2 linked regions of the Homo sapiens genome follow. The protein of the gene in region 1 purifies or fractionates together with the protein of each later gene. This does not show direct contact. Each region holds a gene or a part of one and is shown on either strand. Other genes may lie near its edges.

Region 1 (3,952 bases):
ACACGGTGAAACCCTGTCTCTACTGAAAAATACAAAAAAAAAAAAAAAATAGCCGGATGTGGTGGCAGGCGCCTGTAGTCCCAGCTACTTGGGAGGCTGAGGCAGGAGAATGGCGTGAACCCGGGAGGCGGAGCTTGCAGTGAGCTGAGATCGCACCACTGCACTCCAGCCTGGGCGACAGAGGGAGACTCAGTCTCAAAAAAAATAAATAAATAAAAATAAATAAATAAAAAAAAAGATCCCAGCAATACAAAGATGTGACCTTGGTCCTTCTGTGACATTGAAGAATTTATTCTAGGCTGGAAAATGGGGAATAAATAATTATAAATACAGGAAGTACTGTAAATAGAAGTGCACACATTGTGTTACTGGGGCATAAAGATAAATGAGAGATTAATTCTACCACAAGTAGTCAAGAAAGACTCCACGGAGAAAATGTTAGATGAGGTGGCACTAAAGGATACATAATGCATACAGCAAAATGCAAAACCTCATATTTGTACTGTACCTAAATATGTATCATATATTGCATGTGTATATATACATATTTATATGTATGCATTTATTACATATATAAATACTCAAATATTTAAAGAAATAGGAATATATATATTTTTCTCCTACATATACACAAGAAAAGTATTTCAAAATTTATGTGACAAACTGGAGAAAAACATCCTTAAGAGGCAAAAAGTACTTAAAAGGCAAGAATTAACCTTTAATTTAGAAAGATGGAAACAAACTGTGTTTCAATAATGGTATTCCTTTGAATAGTGTTTTTGGGGGTGTTCACAGAAAAAGGAGTTCCAAAGTCAAATAAGACTGAAAGACACTAACTTACACAAAATTGAAAAGGTTCCTTTCATTGTATGCCTTTTGAAATATTTACAACATACACTCCTTGAGGGCAGGGATTTGGGCATGATTTATTAAGTTATATTTCAGTACTCAGAATGGTTTCTGGCAGGGAATAGGTGTTCACTTAATATTTGTTGAAGAAGCTGGGTGCGGTGGCTCACACCTATAATCCCAGCACTTTGGAAGGCCGAGGTGGGCGGATCACCTGAGGTCAGGAGTTCAAGACCAGCCTGGCCAATGTGGTAAAACCCGTCTCTACTAAAAATACAAAAATCAGCTGGGTGAGGTGGTGCTCATCTGTAATCCCAGCTACTTGGGAGGCAGAAGCAGGAGAATCACTTGAACCCGGGAGGTGGAGGTATCACAGTGAGCCGAGATTGTGCCACTGCACTCCAGCCTGGGCAACAGAGTGAGACTCTGTCTCAAAAAAAAAAAAAAAAAAAAAAAAAAAAAAAAAATTTGTTGAAGGAATCATTAAGGCACTACTTACAGAAGGCTTATGTCATACATCATTTCTCGAATTTATTTGGTCTTGTACCTTTTTTCCCCCATAAAGCATCTGGTTATCTGAGTTTCAGTGATTACACTTCAGGAAATTCTCAAATGAAATCCAAAGCTAAATAAATACTTTTTTTGGGCTATAACATACCGACAGAAATACTGAAGCATTGACTAGTTAAAGTATTTCTTTAACCTTCTATTACATATCTAGCCTTAACTAAGCATGTGCAAAACAGAAAAAAAAATTATATTTGACAGTTTGGCCTCAATAATTTTATAAGCATAGAATTTAGTCTGACAGGATCCACTACAGATTTCTCCTAAATGATTTACTGTATGCACAAAACTACTGAGATTACCTGGTAGTCATATTTTTACGTTTCAGTTAAAAATTAATTCATACATTAGCAAATATAACTTTCAAAGGATATAAGCTAGAAAAATCCAAAGTGACTCAGAAATATGCATTAGCAATAACTGCAGTTAAGTCCCAAAGGTTACTTCTGGGCCTTTGCCATTTACTTGAATCACTTGCATCCAGAACAAAAAAATCTCATTCTGGGCCAGGCGCGGTGGCTCATGCCTGTAATCCCAGCACTCTGGGAGGCTGAGGCGGGTGGATCACCTGAGGTTGGGAGTTCTAGACCAGCCTAACCAACATGGAGAAACCCCGTCTCTACTAAAAAAATACAAAATGAGCCGGGCATGGTGGTACATGCCTGTAATCCCAGCTACTTGGAGGCTGAGGCAGGAGAATTGCTTGAACCCTGGAGGCGGAGGTTGCGGTGACCTGAGATCGTGCCATTGCACTCCAGCCTGGGCAACAAGAACAAAACTCTGTCTCAAAAAAAAAAAATCTCATTCTGCAACAGCAGCTTAGGCTAGAGCAAAGTGGGGATTCCTTCTTTTAAGGATTACAAACATATTTAACAAAGAAAGAAAAAGCAGCTTGACACAGCTTTCAAAATCATAAAGAATAAGTCAAAACTTTCAATATAGAAGCTAAGCCAGGGCCGGGTATGGTGGCTCATGCCTGTAATCCCAGCACTTTGGGAGGCCGAGGTGGGCGGATCACTTGAGGTCAGGAATTCAAGACCAGCCTGGCCAATATGGTGAAACTCTGTCTCTACTAAAAATACAGATAATTAGCCGGGCGTGGGCAGTGGGCAAGCAAGCCAGACTCTGTCTCAAAAAAAAAAAAAAAAAAAAAAAAAGCAGAAGCTAAGCCAGAAACTAAGACCAATACTATTTCTCAATACTTTCAGAAAGAAAAGATATTAGGAATTCAAGAAAGAATGAACTGAAACCTAGGGATAAACTGAGAAATATTTAGCAAGAGTAGAATTTGCTGGCTTTGGAATCAATTCTAAAATGTAACAAATACTTGTTGAATAATTTTTTTTTTAATGAATGAATGAATAAGAAAGTCTCTTTCAGCCGGGCGCAGTGGCTTGCACCTGCATTCCCAGCATTTTGGGAGGCTGAGACAGGTGGATCACAAAGTCAGGAGTCAAGACCAGCCTGGCCAATATAGTGGAACCCTATCTCTACTAAAAATACAAAAATTAGCCAGGCGTGGTGGCACGTGCCTGTAATCCTAGCTACTCAGGAGGCTGAGGCAGGAGAAATGCTTGAACCTAGGAGGTGGAGGTTGCAGTGAGCCGAGACTGCACCACTGCACCCCAGCCTGGGTGACAGAGCAAGACTTCATCTTGGGAAAAAAATAAATAAATAAATAAAAAAGTCTCTTTCTATGAACAGCAGAACTCATTAAGTGAAAAGTCATAAAGTTTAAAGCGCACCATCAATAATTTCTTCAGTGTCAGATTCATGCTTAAAATTTATTATCATTATTTTAAGACAACTGTAGAAAGCTGTCTTCCTTATTTTACACAGAACAGTTTATTTCCTGAGAAAACCACTGCAAGCTTACCTGATGTAAAGCATAACTCAGCAGGACTACGATATAGTAATATATAGGGAATCCCCCTTGATGTTCTACTTTAGGAGTCCACCAAACCAGTAGGGCATATTCTAACCCAAGCAATAATCTATAGAGAAAGAAACATTGAGTTGACTTCCATTTTAGCTTAAATAACAACAACAACAAAAACAGAAATCCGTGTGCCTACCATATGAAAGAAGCTGTATCTAAACCTGTTAGGAGGTTAAAAAGATAAAAGTGCATATAAATAATATTGAAAAAAGATGCTTTTCAAATCTTTTTCCATATATATAATTCTACGCTCAGATATTAGTGGTATTGATGAATGTTCCTCATTTTACCCTTTCTTATTTAGTAAGGTTTTATTTCATTTTTACCTGTAGGGCATGGCTTTGTAAAATGTGTTTAATGGCTGGGGACCTGCAGTGTATTTGCTGATAATCAGAGGCAGTATTATCTGCAAAGGAACCATTGGAACTGCCAATAAGGCTAAATGTTCTTTGGGTACTCCCTCTTCTACCAATTTCAGTCCTGTTACAGCATCTGCTGCTGAAAAACCAATCTGCAATATAAAAACAAAAAAGTATTTTAATTCGTGACTTATGAAATATTTTCCTCCATGCATATGTAAGTTCTTCAAGAACCTCA
Region 2 (3,743 bases), on another chromosome or scaffold:
TTATATTTTATTATTTTATTTTATGAGACAGGGTCTCGCTATGTTGGCTAGGTTGGTCACAAACTTCCTGGCCTCAAGCAGTCCTCCTGCCTCGGCCTCCCAAAGTACTGGGATTACAGGCATAAGCCACTGTGCCTGGCCTAAACTCAAACATTATTAAGAAAGATTTCATAAATGTAAGACACCCCTATGATATTATTATACTTTGACATTAAAATACATAAGAGATACCTAATAGAATTATAGAAAAGAAGGGATTCTGTGGGCCAGGTGCTCACTGGGAGGTTACCTTGTGCTTCTCCATGCACCACTCCCTTTACAAGTAGGCCAGCTAGAGCCAGGGGCAACAGCAGAGCAACATGACAATGTCATGATGTCAATGTCTTTAGTCAGCCATGCTGCTGAGCCTGACAACAGACCAATATGTGCCCTTCATGCTCTGGACAGCCAGGCCAAACCCGCTCTCATCTTTTGCCTACCAGGAAAAAACATCAACCTACTTTTGTTGGAAGAGATTAAATAAGGCAAATCTTGTAAGAAAGGAAGATTGCTACCAGCAGTTTTAAAATAGTCTTTCTCTTCATTTCCCCTAGTTTTCAAATAACTTCCTCACAAGTTTGTTCAGATGAAAATGCTTTTAAAGTGCTTAAGTTCTTGGCAGTTTTAACCTTACCATTCACTGCATTTATTAACAAACGTGTATACTTGAATCCTGGCTTTCCTGGCTACCCTAAAAGGGAGTGGATAAACAACTTATATGCCTTAGCAATCCCACTTTTAGGAATCGATCTTACAGGAATAAAAGCACCAATATAAAAATGTATTATGACATTGTTTATAACAGCAAAACTACTAAATTATGAAATATCCACACTGCTGAATATTATATGGCTATTAAAATTAATGTTAGACATGAAGTTGGACCCTTAACTTACACCATATACAAAAATTAACTCAAAAAACCAAAGATCTTAATGTAAGACCTGAAACCATAAAACTCTTAGGATAAAACATAAGGGAAAAGCTTCATGACCTCGGATTTGGCAATGATTTCTTCGATCTGATACCAAAAGCACAGGGAACCAGGGAACCAAAGAAACAAATAGATCAATTGGACTACATCAATTAAAAACTTCCATGCATCAAATAACACAATCAACAGAGTGAAAAGGTAACCCATGAAATGGAAGATAATATTTGCAAATCATCTGTCTGATAAGGGGTGAATATCCAGGATGTAGAAACAATTCCTACAACTCAACAAAAAAAGCCCCAAACAACCTAATTAAAAAATAACGGACTTGAACAGACATTTCTCCAAAGATATACAAATGGCCAATAAGCACACAAAAAAGATGCTCAGCATCACTAATCATTAGGGAAATGCAAATCAAAACTACAAGGAGATACCACTTCACACTCATTAAAATTATTATAAAACATATCAGAAAATAACAGGTGTTGGCAAGGATGTAGAACAACTGGAACTCTTGTGCACTTTTGGTGGGAATGTAAAATGGTGCAGCTGCTAAGGAAGGCAGTATGGTGGTTCCTCAAAAAATGAAAAAAAATTACCACAAGACCCAGCAATTCCATATATACCATTTTTGTATATATATAAAAAAATGGAAAGCAGGGTCTTGAGCAGATGCATTTCCAACTTCAAAAAGGAAGGAAATTCTGACACATGCTGCAACATGGATGAACCTTGAGGGCATTCTGTTAAGTGAAATATGCCAGTCACAAAAGGACAAGTACTGTATGATTCCACCTATATCAAGCATCTAGAGTAGTTCACAGAGACAGAAAGTAGAATGCTGATTGCCCAGGGTCAGGGGGAGGGTAGAACGGGGAGTGTGTTGAATGGGTACCATTTCAGTTTTGCAAGATGAAGAGTTCTGGAGATGGATGGTGTTGATAGCAGCACAACAATGTAAATGTACTTAATGCCACTGAACTATATTTTTGAAGATGACTTAGATGGCAAATTTGATGTTATATGTATTTTATCACAATTAAAAATAAACTTTAAAAAGTTAGATCTATTTATTGCCTAGAGAGGTAGCCATTAATATATTATCAAATAAAAAAAGCAAAAGGCAGCTAATACCTGTAAGTAGTGCAGTCTCATTTTTTAAGCCTACACCAAAGAACCCTGTGTGCATGAACTCCTGCAGATGTCTGTTCAGGCACAGTAAAGCACAGGACAAAGGACATAACTCAAGTTATTCAGTGCTAGGACTGGAAGAAAGGAGGAGAGGCTATTTTCATCATCATCTTCAAATACCTCAGTACTGCTAGAATATGCCAGTGAACTTTTTAATTTTTACAGTTAAAAAAACAGAAAAACAATACATACCCATTCCTGCTGCTATAACTGGCACAGGCAAATCATAATTGTATAGAAGAAAAGACAACATGAGGAAGTCAATGTAACTTCGATGACTAGGCAGCAGAACAACAGGATGCTCCTGGATGGCTCTTTGTAGCTTGAAAGTAAATGTTACATTTTGAATAATTTCAGTTGTCATGTTATCAAATCACATCTCAAATCAGAAAACGGAAGAATAAGTCTATATTTAGAGGGAATACCCATCCTCTTTTTCTGCCTTTTTGCCATACACATAAACGATTTGCTCTGATAAGGTAAAAGTACTGTTTCTAGTTAAACAATTTCACATAATGCAAGAATATTAAAAATGTAAATTTTTATGGATCAGAATAATAACAGTGATGATCGCTAACATATATTAGTTGGGCACTATATTAGCATCATTTTATATACAGTTATCTTACGTGCTTTGTTTAATACCACATAATTAACAAGGTCTAAGCCTTAGCTTTCTTGTTTGTAAAATGGTCATGCATCCAATAAATGGCAGAGCTGTGAATGGAACCCAAGTCAGTCTGACTTAAAAAGCCAACTGTTAACCACTGTATTGAATTGGTTGGTTGTAGTAAGAGAAAACAAAGCTTCTCTTGGAGAGATTAAAAAAAATCTACAAATTCATAGGACAAGGTGAGAAGAATGGTATTTCTCTATGTGCTGGACTCACTGCCAGGGTGAATGGGTGTCATGTGGCTGGGAGGGATAATTTGAGTTTCCAAATATACTCCTCAGGCCATCAATCTCAAGATTCACTGGTATCCATGTGTTATCTGTTTTTTTGAAATCTAAATGTAACAGAGGCCAGGTAATCTGTGATCATCACTTAAGAAATGGCTCACCACCACCCTTGGTCCCAAACACTGTAACATTCTCTGACAGATTCAGGGTATAAGTCAGCAATCTCGAAAACAGTCAGTAGGAAGAAGAAATATTTGACAGGAAAGTAAATGACTGAATTAAAACAAAATATTAAAAGGGATGAGGAGGAAGGCAAGTGAAGTTAAGAGCTTTCCTAGAAGAAAAAAATATAAAACACAAATAAGTAAAAATACTCTTCATAAGGAAAGCTCTTTATGAAATTAGAAAAGTCATCATTTGGCAATCATTAACATAATAATTAATTCAGGCAAAAATCATCAGTGGGTGCAAAAACGAGTGGGGTAAAGTATGATGCAAAACAGGGTATTTAGCCATTTTCAAAGAGTCTTTTCACAAGATATTCATTAATTATAAAGGGAAAAAATAATAACTTTACAGCAGAGAAACCTGGCAGTCATAACGATAACCAACTGATGGAAGTGAAACATCTCCAGTAATGAAACCGACAGGCACCATGCATTGCTGACACGACCCA

The links. The genes of interacting proteins can lie anywhere in the genome.
Region 2: the proteins of SLC33A1 (region 1) and GNPAT purify together in Homo sapiens (affinity purification with mass spectrometry; one large-scale study listed by BioGRID and IntAct). This does not show direct contact.

Annotation. Positions count from the first base shown.
Region 1 is NC_000003.12:155,830,176-155,834,127, forward strand, and holds part of SLC33A1 (acetyl-coenzyme A transporter 1), read right to left. Parts: intron 3,867-3,952; coding exon 3,682-3,866; intron 3,411-3,681; coding exon 3,293-3,410; intron 1-3,292. UniProt on the Homo sapiens protein: Acetyl-CoA transporter that mediates active acetyl-CoA import through the endoplasmic reticulum (ER) membrane into the ER lumen where specific ER-based acetyl-CoA:lysine acetyltransferases are responsible for the acetylation of ER-based protein substrates, such as BACE1.
Region 2 is NC_000001.11:231,261,469-231,265,211, reverse strand, and holds part of GNPAT (dihydroxyacetone phosphate acyltransferase), read right to left. Parts: intron 2,490-3,743; coding exon 2,360-2,489; intron 1-2,359. UniProt on the Homo sapiens protein: Dihydroxyacetonephosphate acyltransferase catalyzing the first step in the biosynthesis of plasmalogens, a subset of phospholipids that differ from other glycerolipids by having an alkyl chain attached through a vinyl ether linkage at the sn-1 position of the glycerol backbone, and which unique physical properties have an impact on various aspects of cell signaling and membrane biology.